Regions from separate parts of the Homo sapiens genome. Here region 2 is linked to region 1. The links come from fine-mapping of genetic effects on gene expression. A gene starts in region 1. The other region holds a variant in brackets. All regions are shown on one strand. Distances are from middle to middle. Region 1 holds the start of CHST7 (carbohydrate sulfotransferase 7). Region 2 overlaps SLC9A7 (solute carrier family 9 member A7).

Region 1 (10,943 bases):
GAGAAACTTGTTTAATCTTAAATGGGTCCTGTTAAGAACTCCTTCCTTCTCTTGTCACGCTTCAAGGCCCAGGAAAGACCTAGGCAAAACTCTTGGTGTGCTTTTGTTACCTTCCAGCCTTTGTATAAGGGCACTGGCTCTCTTAGCTTTTAATAGTTAGCTTAACCACTCAGTGCTGAAACAGTTGTTAGGGAGGCCTGCCTGTTCAGCCGTTAGGGAGACCTGGCCTGCCACAGAATGAGTAGGAGATGAGAGCACAGAGAGAACTAGTATAGACAGCTCTACTAAGAAGCTGGGCTGTGAGGAGTGGGTAGAGAAACCAGTGGCAACAGGACAAGGGTAGGAGAAGGGCAGAGTGAGGGTACCTGGCAGAAAGATGCAACAGCGGGCTAGAATCTGGCCAGGTTCTGCCTTCAAGCTGTTAACCTTGGACTGGGGCTGTGGCCTGAAGGAAGGGGTACTTATTTGAATGGGGTCAGCCCCCTTGCAATTCATCTGTCTGGAGGGGGCACTTTCTGATTCTCACAAGGGTACTGTATGTGTTAGCAGCAGCTATGCTAAAGGAGGATGCAAATAAATGGGACTTTAAAGAGAGAGAGATAGAGGAAGAAACAGAGAAAGAGATCAAACTGTTTAATTTTCACATCAGTGGAAATAATCTGGTTGAGAGGGTGTAGTTGAATAGGGAGGAGAAATGGTGATTGATAGGAGGGACCGGGGCCTACTCTATTGTACCACTCTATTGTGAAAAATGGATAGCAGATCTAGTAACTTAGATGTGATAGAAATCACTTAATAGAAAACAACTTTAATTCTGATTGAGTTTTCCTTCTGCTAGGATGACAGACCATTGATTGACCTTATTAATTCCTAGGGTTCCTCTACTCCCAAGGTTGTATGTACTCTTGATCTGGGGTCTTAGAATCATTGGGTTTTTGGCTCACCTAGTTGCCCTGAGATGTCTCCATCACTGTCACTTGACCCTTCTGCTGCTTCCAAGCTATGCCTGGGGCCCAGGAAGGTTTGGCACAGTGCCCCTGATCATCTCTGTCAAGCTGAACCATGTGGCCACTTCTCTTTGACTCCTGCTCTGCCCTGACACATTGCCAGGAAAAAGAGTTCAGGTGCCCTGGGCTGCAGGATCCATAGACTTCTCCCTTTGCCCACTCCTCCTAGCCTAAGGAAAATGTCTCAGTGGGGTTGGGGGCACTAGAGTGCTGCTGCTCTTTCTTTTGCTTCTCCAAAACATTTCGTCTAAGCCCTCACACCTTCTTTATATCAGCTAGCTTTTGCTACAAAACAAACCCCTAAAACTTACATCTATTATTTCTCACAATTTGGTGGGTCAGCTCAGTTAGGGCAGGAAGGTGTAGCACCTTTCTACTCTAAGTGTGGTCCTCAGACCAGGAGCATCAGAAGCACCCAGGAGCTTATTAGAAATGTAGTCTCAGGACCCAGTGCAGTGGCTCGTGCCTGTAATCCCAGCAATTTGGGAGGACGAGGCAAGAGGATTGCTTGAGGCCAGGAGTCCAAGACCAGCCTGGGCAACATAGCAAGACCCTACAATTTTTTTTTTTTTTTTTGAGATGGAGTCTCACTCTGTCGCCCAGGCTGGAGTGCAGTGGCACGATCTTGGCTCACTGCAACCTCTGCCTCCCGGGTTCAAGTGATTCTTCTGCCTCAGCCTCCCGAGTAGCTGGGACTACAGGCATGTGCCACCACACCTGGCTAATTTTTGTATTTTTAGTATAGATGGGGTTTCACCATATTGGCCAGGCTGGTCTCCAACTCCTGACCTCGTGATCCGCCTGCCTTGGCCTCCCAAAGTGCTGGGATTACAGGCGTGAGCCACCGCGCCCAGCCTAAAAAAAAATTTTTTTTAATTAGCCAGGCATGAGAAGGATTGCTTGAACCCAGGAAGTTGAAGCTGCAGTGAGCTATGATCACGCCACTGCACTCCAGCCTTCCACCAGCCTGGGTGACAGAGGGAGAGAAGACCCTGTCTATTTAAAAAAAGAAGAAGAAAGAAGAAAGAAGAAGGAGAAGAAGAAAGAAAAGAAATGTAGTCTCTCTGGCCCCACCCTAGGTGTAATGAATCATTTTCTGCTTTTTTTTTTTTTTTGAGATGAGGTCTCACTCTGTCACCCAGGTTGGAGTGCAGTGGCATGACCTCGGCTCACTACAATCTCCACCTCCTGGGCTCAAGTGATCCTCCCGCCTCAGCCTTCCAAGTAGTTGGGACTACAGGTGCACGCCACCATGCTTGGTTAACTTTTTTTGTGTTTTTGGTAGAGACGGGGTTTCACCATGTTGCCCAGGCTGGTCTTGAACTCCTAGGCTCAGGATACCCACCCGCGTCGGCCTCCCAAAGCGTTGGGATTACAGGTGTGAGCCACTGGGCCAGGCCCACTTTCTGCATTTTGACAGGAGCCTTCAAGCATTAAAGTTTGAGAAGCACTGGTCGAGGATCTATCTCCTTTCTCACCTGTCTGGCGGTCAGCAGGCTTGTTTGTCTGGGGGGTGGGGGGCCTCAGCTGGGAGGGCTTATTTTCTGAGCCATGTTGCTAACCCAGGCTTCTTCACGAGCCGATCTCAGGGTTCCAAAGAGCAGGATGAGGGCAATTCCCACAGCAGGAGTATTTTTCAAACCTTTGCTGTGTCATGTTTGCTACTGTCCCACAGGCCAATGCAAGCCACATGGTCATCCCAGAGTCAGTATGGGAAGGCATTGCCCAAAGGCAAAACAGAGGAGGGGAATACTTTGTGGTTATTTAAAAAACCTATCACACTTTCCACTATCAGAGTTGAGGCTTTTGGAGCGGAGGGCGGGGGGTGGGGGGAAGCGGGAAACACCAGCAACTATTTGCATTCTGCCCAGCCACACCTCTCCCCTCACACCAGCACAGAGCCACCTACTTGCTTAAAAGATGAGAGGAGGCCAGGCACAGTAGCTCAGGCCTGTAATCCCAGCACAAGGCCGAAGTGGGAGGATCACTTGAGCCCACGAGTTCAAGACCAGCCTGGGCAACATACAGACCCCGGTCTCTACAAAAAACAAACAAACAAACAAAATTAGCTGGGTGTGGTCCACATGCCTGTGGTCTCAGCTGCTTGGGAGGCTGAGGTAGGAAGATCGCTTGGGCTTGAGAGGTTGAGGCTGCAGTGAGTGGTGATAGTGCCACCGCACTCCAGCCTGGGTGACAGAGCCAGACCCTGTCTCAAAGCTTTTTAAAAAAGCCAGAGAGGAGGGAAAAGTGAAAACAGAAGGGAAAGTTGTAGATTAATATTGCAAAATCATATCCTTGCTATAAACGAGATGTGTACAGAGGTCAATGCATATATGAGTTTGGTAGTGGAAAAGTGAGAGATCGTCTAACATGGTTTCTTTATGAAGTAGGCAGTAAGGTCATGTGCTGAGAAGAGGTGGGTGGGGGAAGAGGGGTATCAGAAGTCTGAGGAGACTAGAGAAGGTTTGAAATCATCATAATGGAACTGGAGACTGGGAAGTGACATGAAGAACCTAAGATTTCAGCAACCATTTCAGGTTGATGATTATGAGGTTATCTTGATGCTGATCTGTTCTGTGGGCTCCCAAAGTGCTGAGATTACAGGCGTGAGCCACTGTGCCTGGCTCACACCTGTGGAGAAATGTTTCGCAGTGGTGTTTGCAGGCACAGAGAAAGCCAAAAGCAGGGTTTGGGGGATTTTGCTAGATGAGTAATGAAAAGGCAGAGGGCACGTGAGTTTAGCTTATTGGAGGGAGTGTTATTAAAATAATGGTATGGCATCTTTCAGCTGAATATGAAAAATTGAGAAGAAAGTGGGGGTGGTGGTCAAAAAGTGGAGGTTGGAGAATAGGGAAGATTTGAACAACTGGCTGGAAGAAGAGGGGAATTGTGGAAAGAAAACGAAATGCTTGAGTCAGTGGTTTCACAGGTGGAGTAGCTTCCGTGATGAAAAAGACCAGTGGAGAGCATTGCATATGTTCTCACTCTTCCAATTTGAACACCTTCCCCTGGTGGAGATAAGTAGATATGCTTTCTATGTTTTATTAACTTTACAACACCTTCCCCAAGCTGGTGAAAGGAAGCTCTCACTTCCTTATTCATTAGCCTGATGAAACAGAGCAAAATGTATCTTTTTTGGTTCTGTTTTGAATTTTAGTAACTCTAGTCTTCATCTGCCTGTTGGACTTCCTGTCTCTTTTTCATCTATCTTTGGGTACACATTTCTTCTTACGGGTCCTTTTAAACACCGAGCTCCTGAGAAAGGTCACCATTCTACCACTTTGATTCTGTAAATGTCTTTTGCTCATAGGTGTCAGAATAGGCTGGGTTATACTGTGGTAACAACCCCCAAATCTCGCAATCCCAGGAGGTACATGGGTACTAAGAATTATTCACATTTTACAAATGACCAAACTGGGCCCCAGAGTATTGGTAAAATGTGCAGAGCCCATCAGCTGGTGAAACCCTAAGGAACACAACACTTAGAATTTCACAAAGGCTAGACTTTATGAAATGTGCTGCGTGGATGCAGTAGTATCTCCAACCCCCCTGGACCGCTCTGCCACGTACAATCTTCTATCTTTCAGTCCGGAACTCAGTAACACCCACTCCAGGGCTGATGGGGGCGCTGGATGTATAGTGGCGAGTGTTTATCTGCCTAGGATAGCGATGGCTAGGCAGGGGACATAAAACAGAAGAGGCAGTGACCTTCTCCGGGTGGGGTCTATGGCCCTTTACTGGGTACATTCTGTACACACAGGCCCCTCCTTTGCCTGAAGTCATTGATGAAGACTTCATTACGGAGGGTTTGGGGAAAGGTGGGGGTCTGGCTGGGTAAGCCGGCGTCCCAGCCCCGCTACAGCCCCGCCCAGATCTGGCAGAGCCGTGGGCGAACCCAGGCGGGCAGAAAGGCGGGGCGGGCGGCTGCCAAGCCGGCCAATAGGCGGCTCTCCGGCTGCTAAGCCGAGAGGGCAGGGGCGCCGTCAGTAGCACCACCGCCTTCCAAGTTTCCCCTTGTGGATGCGCGGCCCCGCGGCTCTGCTCCTCCCGGCGCAGAGGGGCCGGGAGAGGCCACAGGAGCGGACCTGGCACGGGATTTCTGAGGAACGGGAGAAGACTGGCGCCCGACCCGCTCTGGAGGGTCGGTGAACGATGAAGGGCCGGCGGCGGCGACGCCGAGAGTACTGCAAGTTCGCGCTGCTGTTGGTGCTGTACACGCTGGTGCTGTTGCTCGTCCCCTCCGTATTGGACGGCGGCCGCGACGGGGACAAGGGCGCCGAGCACTGCCCCGGCCTGCAGCGCAGCCTGGGAGTGTGGAGCCTGGAGGCGGCGGCGGCCGGCGAACGCGAGCAGGGAGCGGAGGCGCGGGCCGCCGAGGAAGGGGGCGCGAACCAGTCTCCTCGGTTCCCAAGCAACCTCAGCGGCGCTGTCGGGGAGGCAGTGTCTCGCGAGAAGCAGCACATCTACGTGCATGCCACCTGGCGCACCGGCTCGTCCTTCCTGGGCGAACTCTTTAACCAGCACCCGGACGTTTTCTACTTGTATGAGCCCATGTGGCATCTATGGCAGGCGCTGTATCCGGGCGACGCCGAGAGCTTGCAGGGCGCGCTGCGCGACATGCTGCGTTCGCTCTTCCGCTGCGACTTCTCCGTGCTGCGGCTGTACGCGCCGCCGGGGGACCCCGCTGCGCGCGCCCCGGACACGGCCAATCTTACCACGGCCGCCCTCTTCCGCTGGCGGACTAACAAGGTCATCTGCTCGCCGCCACTGTGTCCTGGCGCACCCCGTGCCCGGGCCGAGGTGGGCCTCGTCGAGGACACCGCCTGCGAGCGCAGCTGCCCACCCGTGGCGATACGCGCCCTGGAGGCCGAGTGCCGAAAGTACCCGGTGGTGGTCATCAAGGACGTGCGCCTGCTCGATCTGGGCGTGCTGGTGCCCCTGTTGCGTGATCCAGGCCTCAACCTGAAGGTGGTGCAGCTTTTCCGCGACCCGAGGGCGGTGCACAACTCGCGCCTCAAGTCTAGGCAGGGACTGCTGCGCGAGAGCATCCAGGTGCTGCGCACCCGCCAGAGGGGCGACCGCTTCCACCGTGTGCTGCTGGCGCACGGCGTGGGTGCTCGCCCCGGGGGCCAGTCTCGCGCGCTGCCCGCCGCGCCGCGCGCCGATTTCTTCCTGACCGGTGCGCTCGAGGTGATCTGCGAAGCCTGGCTGCGCGATCTGCTTTTCGCGCGCGGCGCGCCCGCCTGGCTGCGGCGCCGCTACCTGAGGCTGCGCTATGAGGACCTGGTGCGGCAGCCACGCGCCCAGCTGCGCCGCCTGCTGCGCTTCTCCGGGCTACGCGCGCTCGCAGCGCTCGATGCCTTCGCGCTCAACATGACTCGCGGCGCGGCCTACGGCGCCGACCGGCCCTTCCACCTGTCAGCGCGCGACGCCCGGGAGGCGGTGCACGCCTGGCGCGAGCGCCTGAGCCGAGAGCAGGTGCGCCAGGTGGAGGCCGCCTGCGCTCCAGCCATGCGTCTGCTCGCCTACCCTCGCAGCGGAGAGGAGGGCGACGCGGAGCAGCCCAGGGAAGGGGAGACGCCGCTGGAGATGGATGCCGACGGCGCCACGTAGCCTCCCATCCCTGTCCCCGGCACGGATCCGGGTAAGGTGGCCCGGGGCAAGGCAGGGACCGGGACTGGTCTTCCGGGAGCCTGGAATGGCCTGGGGAGGGGGAAGTGTAGGGGGGAGGGTACCATGCTGGATCCCATTCTATCAGATCAGGTCCAAGAGGATGGGAAAGTCCTGCTCGTAGAATTTGGTAGATTCATCGGAATCTCCAGCTTAGCCTCGCGCCTCCTTAGAGGGAGATCCTGAGATGAGAGAGGATATTTAGGCGTGACTGAGGTGGAAGCCAGGTCTCTGCATTCCCATTCCCCTGTATGAAGTAGGAGGTTTCAGAGGGCTGAGGAGAGTAGAGAAGGTTTGAAACAGTCATAATGAGCCGTGAGACTGGGAATTGACATGTGGAGTATAGGATTTCGGAAACCATTTGAGGTTGATGATTATGGAGTTATCTTGATGCCAGTTTGTCCTGTGAGGAGACTTTGCAATGGTGTTTACAGGCACAGAGAAAGCCAAAAGCAGAGAGTTTGGTGGAAAGGCATTGATTCTAACCCTACCTATCCCTAATCTTTCTGTTTCATGTTTCTTCTCTGTCTGTTTTATGCGCAGGCTCCAGGGCTTTTCTCCTGAATTTCCAAACATGCAGGCACAGTCCAGCGGCTCTTGCAACACTTCTTGCACATTGTGTGTCTCAGGCGCTTGTGTAGTGAATAGACTTGCTTTCCCCTGGCTCATGTGCGCCTCTCTGTCTCCCCTCCCCCTCCTTCCCTCTCTCATTTCCCCTCTCCCTCTCTTCCTCTTCCTCCCCCTTCCCCTCCTCCTCTCCCTTCCCCCTTCTCCCTGTAGCTGGCGTTTGCAGGATATTTGACCATATCCCATTCACATCAGGTCACAAAAGCTGCCTGGTCAGCTTCCTCTAGTGTCGACAAGACCTCAGGGTTGGGTGTCCCCCACTCCACCCCATCCGTTTGACAGATGGAGCCTTCAATTGGCAGTAGCAGTTTGTGACTGCAGGAGGAGCTTTGTGAAAAGACACTGCCCCCTCTTTTTTGTTTTTCCATTTTTGTTTTTTGTTTTTTTCTGTATATCTGAAGATGCTAAAGTGGGGCTTAAACAGTCTCAAAATGTGTTCTGTGTGGGTCAGTGTATGGCCTGAGGGAAGGGTTTGTTCTGCACAGTGCTGACCATAGGAGTCTACTTAGTGACATGGGAGTGTGTTTCCCCAAACTTTATGTGAGTTGGAAGGGTGCCGCCTTCTGCACTGTGCAGTCAGTCCAGAGGAGGAGGAAAAGTAGTGCTGGGTGGGCGGAAGTGAGTTAAGTTTCCATTCATTATTTTATAGTGTAATTCAGCATTCCCCTGAGATGAAGCTCTGAGGACAAACGTTGAAGATATTAATGAAGAGGGATTTTGTTGTTGTTACAGAACCAGGGTTTCAGAGTGATTTCAGAAGCTGGCTAACTAATTTTTCTCCCAGTAATCAAATGGTTTTCTTAGTCAGTTTCTGAAATTGCTAGGAAGTCTGTGTTCTTTCCTGATTTCCAGAGTGATGGAAGGTAAGGCACAGGGTGACTTGTCACATCTTAACAAAAACATCCTTTCATCTGCTGATCCTGTATTTACAGATATAACAGTAATTGTCCCTAACCCTTCTTCACAGGCCTGAGGGAACTCCTCCCCTGGGCGGAATGCTGTGCATTTTATGGCTTTAAGACATGACAATCTCCCAGAAACTTTTGCTTTTTTTTTTTTTTTTTTTTCATTTTTACTAACATCTATTTGAGTACTGGCTGGGGTGAAGCATTAAAGAGAATAGAGAGGAGGGTAGAGGACAGTCTTTGCCCTCTAGGAGGTTAGAGTCTGTGTGGGTGACAGTGACTGTGAGGGAAGACACTGGTGTTGCTGTTTGGAAGGCCGATGGGGCTTCCTTTGCAGGGCTGCAGGGACATCTGGGAGCAAGCTTTAGGCTCTTCCAGACTTTAGTGACTGAGTCCTTCCTCCCGCATTGGGCACTTACCACCAATCAGTGGGTTGATTACAGTGCTTGTATTCTTGGTTCCTAGGAAGATAACGTTACTGCCGACTCACTGATGGGTTTTCCAAAAGTTTGTCACACTCTATTCTAGAGAAGGGAGGAGAAGAGAGGGGGAGGGATCCTTACTGAAGGGCTATGTGTCATGCACTGAGTTAGGCATTGTACATATATCATTATTTATACCAGTTTTCCAGATGAGGAATCCGAGACTCAGAGAAGTAATTTGCCCAAAGTCATACCTGGGCTGGTGAGGGTGGAACAGTGTTTGGTGTTAGACTCCAGAGCTCATAATCCTCTCTTTTATACCTCACCTGGCCCCTGCCTTGGCATTCCCTGGCAGCACCCTGATACTCCAGCTAGGCTAGTATGAGGTGGAAAACACACTCAGCTTTATTACTAATATGTCCCAACCACTGAACAAATAAAATATCCCTGAGCTGCCGACAGTGCCTACACAGGAAAGCCGACAACTTTACAGCCATCCTCCCCACAGGGCATCTCAGGGTGCCCTCAGCTCAACTGAGGAGAGAGGCCACATGTGAATTAACCTGAGTAACTTCTGGATGGTCCATACCCAATGGCCAGGATTTGGCAGTGAGGGAGTCAGTGAAGTTTTTTCTGGTCTGGGTAGGGGCCGTAGCACCCTGAACCAAGTCACCAAGGACCTAGGCCCTTTCTATCTTTTACATCTTGGCTTTCATTCACTGGCTTATCTTCCCACTGTAACAAGATGGTAGCCACAGCTCCAAGCAAAACATCTTCACACAACGACACAGGGTTATTAAAATACAGAAAGGAAGGAAGCTATCTAGCCAGTAAGGGGTGGAGGGGTTTTTCCTCCTGCCATGCTCTTTTTTTTTTTTTTTTTTTTTTTTGAGTGGCAGCTCTTACTCTGTCACCCAGGCTGGAGTACAGTGGTGTAATCTTGGCTCACTGCAATTTCCTCCTCCCAGGCTCAAGTGATCCTCCCACCTCAGCCTCCCAAGCATCTGGGCCCACAGGTGCGTACCACCACATCCAATCTTTCACCCAGGCTGGAGTGCAATGTCATGGCTCACTGCAGCCTCAACTTCCCAGGGTTAAGCAATCCTCCCACCTCAGCCTCCCAAGTAGCTGGGACTACAGGTGCACACCACCACTCAATCTCATTAAAAGAAATTTTTTTTTTGCAAAGATTGGGGATGGGCGGGGAGTGGGGGCTCTCACTGTGTTGCCCAGGTTAGTCTCGTACTCCTGAGCTCAAGCTATCTGCCTGCCTCGGCCTCTCAAAGTGCTGGGATTATGGATGTGAATCACTGCACCCAGCCTTAATAAATTATAACACCTTTCCCAGAACCCCCTTTACCAGCCGACGTCCCTTTATGTCTCATTAGCTAAAACTGGGTTATACAGCCTGCCCTAGCCCAATCATTGGTGAAAGGGAATGGGAGCATTGTGATTGGCTTAGACCAGCGGTTCTCAGCCCTGGCTGAACATTACATTTACATGAGGAGCTTTTTTATTTATTTTTTTAATGCCAATGCCTGAGCTCCACCCCCAGAGATTCTGATTTAAGTAGTCTGGAGTGGAGTCCCCAGACTCAGGCACTGGGATGTTTGAAAAGCTCCCCAGATGATCCTACTGTATAGCCAAAGCTGAGAACCTCTGGCTCAGACCAGTCATGGTTCATCCCCTGGGCCAGATGGGACCAGAAGGCTGCCACCGGAACAAGATCAGGATGGGGAATAAAGGGCTGTTGATGAGCACTGAACTGCTTGCCACAGTAATTTATGTGAAAGAACTTGGAGCTATGAAGTGCCAAGCAGATGTAGAGTGTTATTATGGAAAGGGGAAAATGTCCTCAATTATACATGGGTCCATTTATCACCCTCTCACATGCCTTCACATGCTTTGTTGTCTGTAGCTCATTATCTAATTATCTAATAATCCATCATTGTACACTATCCACCACTGTTCTGGACAGACTGATGTGCTATCCTGTCCTTTTCAGCATGTCTCCCTTTAATGTCTGCCCTTGGTAGGTCCCAAAGTTTCATCCCGCTAGGCATTTAAGGCACCTTGATCTTTGCTCTTGACATGACATATGCATCCTTTGAAAGAAATTAGGAAAGAAGGCAAACACCCTGTAATTTGAACCCTAACAATCAGGAAGCTTTCTTTCTAAAGAAATCATGTAAACAGGAAAAGAAATGATCAACCACCACCAAATCATTTTGAAAATCTATTTTAATCAGGAAACTGGGCCACAAACATTTTATATAGGCTTATGTATAAATATCACTGAGGCCGGGTGCAGT
Region 2 (10,943 bases), 53 kb after region 1:
ACCCGCAATGGCAACATCAAATAATTAATCAAAGATCTTTGAGAAGCACATAGACAAGAGAAGGAGAGAAATTAGCAAGCACTATTTATTAATACACTCCTAAAGTTTCCAACAGCAAAGATTATTTTTAAAAATTGAATCCCCTCGGTATTTCAGGAATGTTTAGTGATGGATATGGAAATGGCTCAGTTAAATGGGCCCTTCTGTGGATGAGGAAATATAAACAAGGAGAGACCCCAGAGACCAATTTGATTTTACATTTTTATAAATCATGAGCAAGAGAGAGAGCACAGAAATGCCTCCATTTGCAGGGTGACTGATTGCTAACCCAATGACAACTCTGGGAAGATTCCAAAATGCCACATGACTGAGTAGAAAAGTAGCAGATGACTTTTTTGATAGGCAAATATATAATGGAAAAAATCAAATGGTTCTTTATAAAGTAATAGGCTCTAAGTTCTCAGTTCTAAGTGCCTGTAGAATTTTACTAAGGAAAAAGCCAGCACAACGATAAACATCATCAGGAAGGATACTATTAAACCATCAGGCACAAAACGAGTACCCCAAAGTCAGTTTCTTCCGCTTCTTCCCTTAAATCAATGATGAAAACAATGAACCCTACTCTGTCATCTTAACCTCTGCAAAACCACAAAGCATTTATTATCACTGGACTACTTAATTTCTTGCCATTTAATCTCAAGAAAGCTACAAGAACCCCGGAAGTTAAAAGTTAAATTTAAAAAAAGAAAGCTACAAGAGACTTATATAAGCCCCAAAAAAGACAATTAAAATGAGTAAAGCAAGGGAATGGTTTGACAGCAAACTAACAAAAGGTCTTCTCAGGCTACGGAAAGATATGCCTGCAATCCATGAATAAGATAAAGTGACCTCAGACTCCACAGCAAATCCCGAAATGTAAGAACTAAGAAACAACGCTTAGAGGCTACAAGGGGTAAATTCAGGACAAATCAAAGGTGTAACTTTGTGAAAAGGGTGTTAAACAACTTCTTATTCCAAGAGATGGTGCCAGAAGCATGATTAGGTATAGGAAGAACTTAGATAAATCCACATATGGTGGCTTTGGGGAAATCAGGGCAGTTCTGTGGGACAGAACTAATTTTTTAAAGCTGACCCGGAAGACAAGCAATAACTGCTTCATGACATGATTGGGGCTGCTGTCACAGAGAAGCCATTGAGAGCCCTTCCTGTGGGCTCCGAACAGCACCGGACTGAGGAAGGGTCACTGTGGGAACAGGCGGAGCCTCCTTCCTGGCTGTACTTGGCGACTCTTGGATTTTCCACTCCTGTGCCGTCCACAGAAAAAGCACAGACTTGCTCTCTCAACTCGCCCCTCCTCAAAACCTGGGTTCGCACCTCATGTCTTCAGCTCAGGCAACTTCTAGGGCCTGGAGCATTCTTTTTTCCTCTCACCTTCTCCCACCCAGAACACCTACCCGGCCAACCTCTATTCACCTTTCAAGCCTGTGCAGAAGCGTGGCTTCTCTAAGAAATGTTTCAAAAGCGACATAGCACTCCAAGAAGTGTAGGTGTGGATATCACAGGCTCTCTCAAGAGACTATCTGGCTCCTGACTGTGCCGCTGCCATTGTCTTGCTGTGTGATGCTGGGCAAGTTACCTAACCTTTCTGTGCTTCAGTATCCTCATCTGTAAACTGGAAATATTAATAATTACCTACCTCTAGGGGCATTATGAGGCTGTAATGTTGTGATAGAACAAGAAATATATATCTGGTTTTTGTCTGACATAAAACTCCTAAAACCCTTGGAATTTCCTGAGTAGATGGGGTGGGAGGAACATCTTTTTTTATTAATAATAAGCTCCTTTCAAGCACACCTGAATTTATGCTAATAAGGTGACTCTTGAATGGACACTGATTGCCAGAGAAACCAACCATGTAATTAGAGGATTGGAACTTTTAGCCCCATCCCAACCTCCTAGGAGGGGAGGACTGGGGATTGAGTTAATTACCAATGGCTACTAATTTAATCAACCATGCCTATGTAATGAAACCTCCATAAAACCCTAAATGACACAATTTGGAGGGCTTCCAAGTTGGCGCCACATACTCCCATCCCCATCCTTTGCCCTATGCATCTCTTCCATTAGGCTATTTCCGAGTTGTATCCTTTATAACAAACTGGTAATGGTAAAAGTTGTGTTCTGTGAGTCATTCTAGCAAATTATCGAACCTGAGGAGGGGTTGGGAACCCCCCCCTATAGCCAGTCAGTCTGAAGTACAGGTCACGACCTGGGACTTGCAACTGGTGTCTGAAGTGGGGACAGTCTTGTGGGACTGAGTCCTTAACCTGTGGGATCTGACGCTAACTCCAGGTACGTAGTGAGTTAAACTGTAGGAGGTCCAGTTGGTACTCATTGGGAATTGGAGAACTGGCTGGTATACAAAAAGACCCTACATATTTGGCATTAAAAGTGGTGTGAATGTAGAGAAAATAGGTTTTAATTTTAGAACTGTAAAAGATTTTTCATTTAAAGAACTTAGGATGGTGTCTGATATGTGGCAAGCACTCAACAAATATTGACTCATTATTGTTTGCCATGTGACTTTTTGTGCTGATTAAATATTTGTGAAATATTTAACCCAGAATCTGGCATGTAGTTAGAGCTCATATTACTAATTAAGTTCATTTCCAAAGACTGGATATGTAATTTCAAGCACATATTTGTTTGGGGGAAAAAAACGCCTAGCCATTAACATCATTTGGCTATCTTGTGTGGCTTTTTACACAAGGAATTTTCATCTTTTTACTGCCATTATTAATAGAGAAGCCCCTTCAAGAAAATACCACCAACCCTGCTTATTATCATTTTTTGAGCATGTAACAATGAGTGTCTATTTCTTCTGCATTCATTAAGCACCTACTATGTGCCAGGCACCATGCTGGGTGCTGGAAACACAAAGAGGAATGTAACTTAGCACCTGGGCCTCAAGGAGCACTCTTTCCAGAAGGTGAAGGTGGCGAGGGTTGGGGGGTAGGGGGAGGGGAGACAGACAAATACATATTGACTGACAAATATAATGAAGAAAAAGAAAGCTGATTAAAGAACTGGGGAATAGCAAACAGTCCTATTTTTGAAATAATTTTTCTAGAATGAATGCATAATGATATCTGTGTAGAGTTACATTTCATTCCATTCTTATATAATATTAAAAGATGTTTTTAAAAGATAAGGTCATTACACTAATAAGAACAGCTTACTTTTTTTTTTTTTTTCAGGGATGGAGCATGTGGTAGGCAGAATAATGGCCACCCCACCAAAGCTTTCTACAGCCTAATCCCTGGATCCTGTTACACTACCTGGCAAAAGGCTTTGTGGATGGACTTAAGGTTATCCAGGTAGGCCCAGGACAATCACGTGGGCCCTTAAAAGTGGACAAGGAGGGCCAGGCATAGTGGCTCACGCCTGTAATCCCAGAACTTTGGGAGGCTGAGGTGGGCAGATCACTTGAGGTCAGGAGTTCAAGACCAGCCTGGCCATCATGGCGAAACCCGGTCTCTACTGAAAATACAAAAATTAGCTGGGTGTGGTGGCACACACCTGTAATCCCAGCTACTCAGGAGGCTGAGGCACAAGAATTGCTTGAACCTGGGAGGTGGAGGTTGCAGTGAGCTGAGATCACATCACTGCACTCCAGCCTGGGCAATAGAGCAAGACTGTCTCTCTCTCAAAAAAAAAAAAAAAAAAAAAGGACATGGAGGGCAAAAGAGTCAGAGGAAGGAATGCAGTAGAAGAAAGGGCGGGAGAGATTCAGAGCTTGACTTGCCCCACTGTTGCTGGCTTTGCAGCAAGAACACAGGACCTCAGTCCTACAACCACATGGAACTGAATTCTACTGACAACCTGAATGAGCCTGGAAGTGGCTTCTCCCCAGAGCTTAGCCTTGCCAACACCTTGAAAAACTTGAAGCAGAGAAACCAGCTGAGCCCACCAGGTATCTGATCTACTGAACTGTAAGGATGACAAAACTGTATTGTTTTGGCTGGGCATGGTGGCCCATGCCTATAATCCCAGCACTTTGGGAGGCCAAGACAGGCAGATCACTTGAGCCAAGGAGTTCAAGACCAGCCCCAACATGGTGAAACTCTGTCCCTTAAAAAAAAACAAAAACAAAAACAAAACTTTATTGTTTTAAGCCACTAAATTTGTGGTAATTTGTTACAGCAGTCACAGACAACTAATATGGAGCAGAAGAGTAAATAAATGATGTCACTTGATTTGGGCCTGATATGCTTTTTTTCTTTTTCGGACATGGAGTCTCGCTGTGTCACCCAGGCTACAGTGCAGTGGTGTGATCTCGGCTCACTGCAACCTCCGCCTCCCGGGATCAAGCGATTCTCCTGCCTCAGCCTTCCAAGTAGCTGGGATTACAGGTGCCTGCCACCATGCCCAGCTAATTTTTGTATTTTTAGTAGAGATGGGGTTTTGCCATGTTGGCCAGGCTGGTCTTGAACTCCTGACCTCAGGTGATCCACCTGCCTTGGCCTCCCGAAGTGCTGGGATTACAGGTGTGAGCCACCACGCCCGGCCTGGGCCTGGTATGTTTGGGCTCTGTGTACCCCCACAAGTCTCATCTCAAGTTGTGATCCTAAGCGTTGGAGGTGGGGCCTGGTAAGAGGTGGCTGGATCATGGGGGCAGACTTCCCCCTTGCTGTTCTTGTGATAGTGAGTGAGTTCTCACGAGATCTGGTTAAAAGTGTGCGGCACTTCCCCCTTGCTCTCTCTCTCTCCTGCTCCGCTATGGTAAGATGTGTTTGCTTCCCCTTTGCCTTCACTATGATTGTGC[G/A]TTTCCTGAGGCCTCCCAGCTATGCTTCCTGTACAGCTTGCAGAACTATGAGTCAATTAAACCTTTTCTTCATAAATTACCCAGCCTCAGGTGGTTCTTTATAGAAGTGTGGGAATGGACTAATACAGGGCCTTTGTCATATCATTGGGATAATGGATCCAAGATTTCTCAGCAGAGGGTAATAATAGGGTTTAGAAACAGGGAATCAGCCAGGCAGTGGGCTCATGCCTGTAATCCCTGCACTTTGGGAGGGTTAAGATCACTTGAGCCCAGGAGTTTGAGACCAGCCTGTGCAACAAAGCAAGACCCTGTCTCTAGAAAAATATTTTATAAATTAGCTTGGTGAAGTGGCACACACCTGTGGTCCTAGCTACTCAGGAGGCCGAGGGAGGAGGATCCCTCGGGCCCAAGAGGTCAAGGCTGCAATGAGCTGTGATTGCACCACTGCACTCCAGCCTTGGCGTCAGAGGGAAACCCTGTCTCAAAACAAAACAAAAAAAAAACCAGAGTCAAATCTCTGACCGTGATACACAGATAGTTTTCTTCCCTGCTTAAAACTCTCCAGAGCTATACATTGCCTAGATCAGGGCTTTTCTAATGGTAAAATGTACACACATTCCCTGGAGACACTGTTAAAATGCAGATTCTGCTTCAGTGGGGCTGGTGAGGCCTGAGTGTCTCCACTCTCTTGCTTCTGCCACTCTCCACCCTCACCCTTTATCACCTTGTCACCAAGCCCTTCAGGATGCAGATTCATCTACCTTGTTGCAGATATTTTCCCAGAACCTGAAAGAATGCCTGAAATAGAACAGGTGCTCAATAACTATTTGTCAAATAAATGAATAAATTGATCTTGACTCTGAGTTTTTAGAAAACAGAAAAGGAAGAGCAGAAAGGGAAATCAGGGGCCAAGGGAGGCACTTGGAAGCACAAAAAAATGGGCGGGTTGGGGGGGGGGCGGTGGTCACAGAGTAGCAACTGGAGGAAAGGCACCTCTGCAACTGTTTGAAGTTAAAGATTTAGGTGACAGATTTACGGGTATCAGATTTCAGCCTGGAGAAACAAAAACAAACAAAAAAAAACACGGAGGACCCAGAAACAAATGATTCTAACTTGCTCAGAAAGTCATATGTGAACGCAACAATAAACTGCTGATTTTCTACAGTTTTCACTACATACACACAGACAGACACGCACACACGTGTGCATATACACAGGCATTGGTGGTTTCCTTTCCTCCACACTCCATTAATATCCGGCTTGTGACCTTGTCCTGTTGATATGGTGAAACTGGGATAAATTCAGATTCACACTCTTAGCTGCTCCAAAGTGGCCTCATCAATGAGTGCTCTTCTGTAAACTCAGGGAAGGAAGTGAATGATGTGTCTGCATGTACGGCCAACAGAAATCTCAGCTGTCTGGTCTGGCATGAAAAGTCCCCTGCTTTATCGGGGTGGGAGGCCACCCCCAGGGCTGGGCAGCTTGCCTCCAGCTAGGGTTGTTTTTGTTTTGGTTGCAAAGTCACCAAGACCTCCAGAGAAACAAAGCACTGAGTTTTGTTTTTTGTTTTTTGTTTTTTTTGTCTTGTTTTGTTCTAATGAGTCAAACTTACCAGGGGACACAAAGCTGAAGTCTGCCCACAATATTTTTATGCTTTCCCCACATGAAGCAAAGTTCTAGCCAACAGCTCCCTTCCTTTTCCCACATGAGCTAATATTCTGTAGCTCCCTAGCCATGACTCTGTTTATAGCCTTGGGCTTCAAGACCAGTGAGGAGAATTGTGCTCATTATAAGACATGCCTTCCCATCAAATGTCACTTTTTTGTTTGTTGTTTTTAGGAAGATTATTTAGAAAATGAGGTAAAGAGAACCGCCCTTTTTTTTCTCTGGTGGAGAACAAACATCTGGACTTTCCCTACCTCTGATTTCAGTTTCATGACAACACTGAGCATGTGACCTGGATCTATTTCAGGGGAAACTGCAAGAACCCAGGGTTTCACCCAAAAATGAGAAGCCCATTTATTTCTGTTTTCCTGTTTCTCATGGCCACAGAGTGCACTGAGCCCTGCTGTTAGTGGCTCACTAGAATGAGGAGGTCAGACCAGGAGGAACTGGAGAAATAAGGTCCTCTCTGCACAAGGGCGTGAGTCATTTCTAAGAGGGTGTCCTGGAGAACCAAGCTTGAAGTTTGCATGTTTTTCCCCATATGACAGCAATCTTGAAAACCTTTCAAAAGGTCAGTGGAACTGACTTTGAGGGGCCCTCTGCATGACTGTGTATGAGGTCTGGAAGGAAGGAGGTCAGGGGGAAGCTGTGACACAGCTTCTGGCTAGGGCTGTGGCAAACAGGGTGCCATTAGGAGTGCAGCGCGAGTGGCTGCCAGCCCGTTCACAACACCACATGTGCGGTGCTCTCAGCCCAAGGGGCCCTCTGGGAGCTGACAGGAACACTGAGTTCATCCATCCAGGCCCATCCAGGGAGGTTCCTGAGACTCACTCCACCTGGGGGTGGGGGCTATTTTAGCTGTTACTGCATGGACTAAATACAAGAACCCTCAGCACTTTGGACCTGCTGCTTTCTCACTCAAACATTTCCACAGAAAAGTGACAGTAAGCTTGTTACTGAATCTAATTACAAGCCCAGTGTTCCCAGTGCGCAGGGCTCATGTGATACATAGTAAGTTCTACTACATGACCAGCCAAATCCTTTCACTTATTTCCTGTTACAGATGCTTGAATGCAGAGGTAGGAGCAATGGGAAACAGCAAAGGGGGTGGGGATGTTTTGAATGGTCCAGAGCAAGATGAAATCTCTCCAAATCTTATGATCCAGCTGCTATTGGCCTTTTTTTCTTACAAAATTAATCTAGACTGGCCACAGTTCTGTGGAGGATGCTTTAGAATAGGGCAGCCATGTCCTACCAGAGCCATTATCTTTCCTTTGGTGAAATAAGGACGGCCATCATGTTTTCCCCTGGGGTTTTCTCAGGCTGAGTTTCAAGATCTCCCAAACTGTTATACTCTAAATTAGCCTCGAGGTGCTCAGTTCCTGAACTCCTGTTTTCTAAAGTCCTTAATCAAAGCTAGAGTCAAATAGCAAATTTTCAAAGAGAACTCACTGAGACCACATGCTCCCAACTGACATAATGGCCAATTCTAAGATCATCTCAAAGGTCTTCTGGAGCTCATTAAAGTGGGTGCCAAATCTCCAATGAAGCTTATTGAAAACTCTTCCCAAAATGTCCAGAACTTTCCAGGTCATGGCTTTGTGTCCCTTGAGCAGGGACCTAGAATGGACATCAATGCTATAAATGCCTTATCAGGCTGTGGCCACCCTTAAAGAGAAAGAAACCACAAAAGGCCACAGTGGCACCCCATTGACCCCACACAGCACCACATTTTGCCAGCCTTATTAAATCTGATTTGGTAGATGGAATCATTTAGAAGATCCTATGGAATGTGAAGTCTGCTGCAGACTGCTGCAGGATTAAGTGCAATGATGAGTCAGATTCAAAGCTGACTGGAAAAAAAAGAATAGGGTTTCATGGACAACATACACAGGTGGTCAGTAAAGCTGCCTGTTGCATGCTGCATCTCTCTCATTCCCTCATCCACCCAACAAACACCTATCAGGTTCCTGCATGTGCCAGCCACTGTGCTCAGCACTGGGCATTCAATGCTGAACGACATAGTTATTGACTCCCAAGGTCAAATAATATATTGGTAACACATTTCTGCCCCTATCATAACTCTCCTTTCCCCACCTTGCCTGCCCAGGTCATGCTGACCTGGATAAAGAGCCAGACCTAGAGACAAAATCATCCCGACAGCTGCACAACAGGGATGATATGGCAACCTCAATTCTTGTCTGTAAATTTGTTGATACTCTTCCCATCCAGAGGTTATGGTCTCTATCCCCTCCCATTGGGTCTGGGCTGGTCTTAGGAATGCATTTCTAAGCAATAGAAAGCCACGGAAGTGATGCTGTAGAACTTGCAAGATTAGGTCAGAAAAGGTGATATAGCCTCTACCTTGCTTGCTGGGACACTTGCTTTTGGAACCTTAAGCCATCACATAAGAAATCCAACTACCCAGCAGCCACCATGCTGGCAGGCAGCTCAGGCCACATGGAAAAGCCCTGCACAGACATTCCTGTCAGAAGTCCTTGTGGTTGGGTCCTTCCAGCCCAGGTGCCAGACATATGAGTAAATGAACCTTTGCATGATTCCAGCCCCAGGCTCCTGGTTTTCCCACCTGGGGCCGTGGACTTCATGGAGAAAAGGCAAGCCGTCCCTGCTATGCCCTTTCCAAATTGCTCACCTAGAGGATCCCAGGCCCTGGAGAAACAGGAATGCCTTCAGGCACCTGATGTCTCTCCTTTCTTCCTCAGATCCCTGGGCTGGAGAGTCAAATCGTATTGCTCTCTTTCTCCTGGGCACCACTGATAGACTCGGAACCAGTTGTAGAACCAATATCCACTATTGAAAAGTGGAGAGTCAGGGACTCTTTCTGGCGAGCCCACACCCTTCATAATGTTGATTAAGAACACATACCCTGGGGACAAATCCTGGCTCCATCACTTATTCTGAGATGACTCAAACTCCCAAACTTCAACTTTTAATCTGTAAAATGGGGAGAGCAGTACACGCTTCATAAGGCTGTTGTCAGGATCACATTGAGGGAATCTAGGTAAAGTGCCTGGCATGTGGCGAATGCTCAAATGTCTTCCCCAGGAAGAAGCATCTCTTGTGACTTACCCCTTGTAAGACTTGAAAGCTGTCGTTGTTGGGTGGTGGGTCTTGATCGGGGTCAACACCAACTCTGAAAGTCACCAGGGAGAAAGACAAAGAGAAAAACAGAGCGTATTAGCTTGGCCCATGGTAGCCATGCAGGCTGCAAGTAGCCTGGAGGCTAATCATCTTCCCGAAGCATAAGGAGTGGTTAGCTAAAAGGTGAGGAAAGCTGTCATGCAGAAGTCATAAGAAAGAGGTCGCATACCACTTCAGATCCCAGAGGGTCAGAGGGGCGATGAATCCCATGTGCTCACACTCTAAGCAAGGCCGCCGGAACACAACACATGCTGGCAACTGTCCACTTGCTTTTCTGCACCAGGTGGTCCCAGTTATCAAAATGGGGGTCTCACTGCACTGGGCCCTTCCTTTGTGCTGCTTCCTCACTTCTGCCCTGGCCTGCTTTAATTTCTCTAACATTCTGTTATAAACTTTTTCAAATATACAGGGAGATGTTGAAAGACTTTAGAGTGAACCCCTATATACCCACCATCACTAGACTCTACCATTAACATTTTACTGTATATTCCTTATTACCTATCTATCCATTTCTCTATCACCCATCTTACTTTTTCTTTGGATACATTCAGATAAAGTTGCAGACATCAGAATACTTCCCCTAAATACTTCACGTGCATATTGACAAAGAGTCTCTCCTTGACCAAACTTTAGTCAGGCTCCTAGGAATTCACTTCCCAACTAGGCACTGACTTTTGGGCTTCCATGTCCATCTCAGCATAGCCCAATTTTAGCAAGAGGTTTGCTAAGTTGGTTTGGCCAGAACCGAACATCTGATTGGGTTCTTCATCCCCCCACAATCCCTCAGGTGATGTCTGATTGTCTAAGTTGGTTTGGCCACAGCCCAACATCTGAATGGCCTATCCCCAACATCTGATTGGATTCTTCATCCCCCCACAATCCCTCAGGTGGTGTCTAATCCCCTTCGCCTGTCTTCAGCAAGAATCCTATTGGGTCAGTTTAGCCAGAATCCCCCTTGCCCCTGATATTTCCTCTCAGTACTTCCCTATCCACTGACCCGTTTCTCTCCCCTGCTGCAAAACCCCATCACAGTGGTCCCTATTCCAATCGTGATGGTCCTGAACAACGTCTGCCTTACTGTTTAAATATACATCAGAATAATGTTTTCTTTAACAATATCATTAATTAGAGTCCTGACCTGCTTTCAATCCTGGTGCCCCTATACCCTCTTGCATCAAGATAGCCTTGAGAACTCACACATTTGAGAGCAACAACTAAAGACAGAAAGAAAAAGCAAAATGGCAGGACTCATTTATAACAAATACTATAAAAGCACCAGGGCAGTTGTCTT

Evidence for each region.
Region 2: its variant is fine-mapped to the expression of CHST7 in whole blood (TOPMed, PIP above 0.99).

What each region holds. Positions count from the first base shown.
Region 1 is chrX:46,568,773-46,579,715 of GRCh38, forward strand. It overlaps CHST7 (carbohydrate sulfotransferase 7), which reads left to right and starts at 4,993. Exons shown (of 2, transcript NM_019886.4): 1 at 4,993-6,651. The coding sequence starts at 5,160. The coding sequence ends at 6,620. RefSeq lists silencers at 6,011-6,060, 6,181-6,240.
Region 2 is chrX:46,622,006-46,632,948 of GRCh38, forward strand. It overlaps SLC9A7 (solute carrier family 9 member A7), which reads right to left. Exons shown (of 17, transcript NM_001257291.2): 14 at 9,581-9,644. LOC124905182 (a long non-coding RNA gene) reads left to right here. Exons shown (of 2, transcript XR_007068222.1): 1 at 1-2,352; 2 at 3,258-4,901. Among named protein-coding and RNA genes, the nearest start is that of CHST7, 54 kb to the left of the region's middle. The variant G/A (reference allele first, on the strand shown) is at 4,826.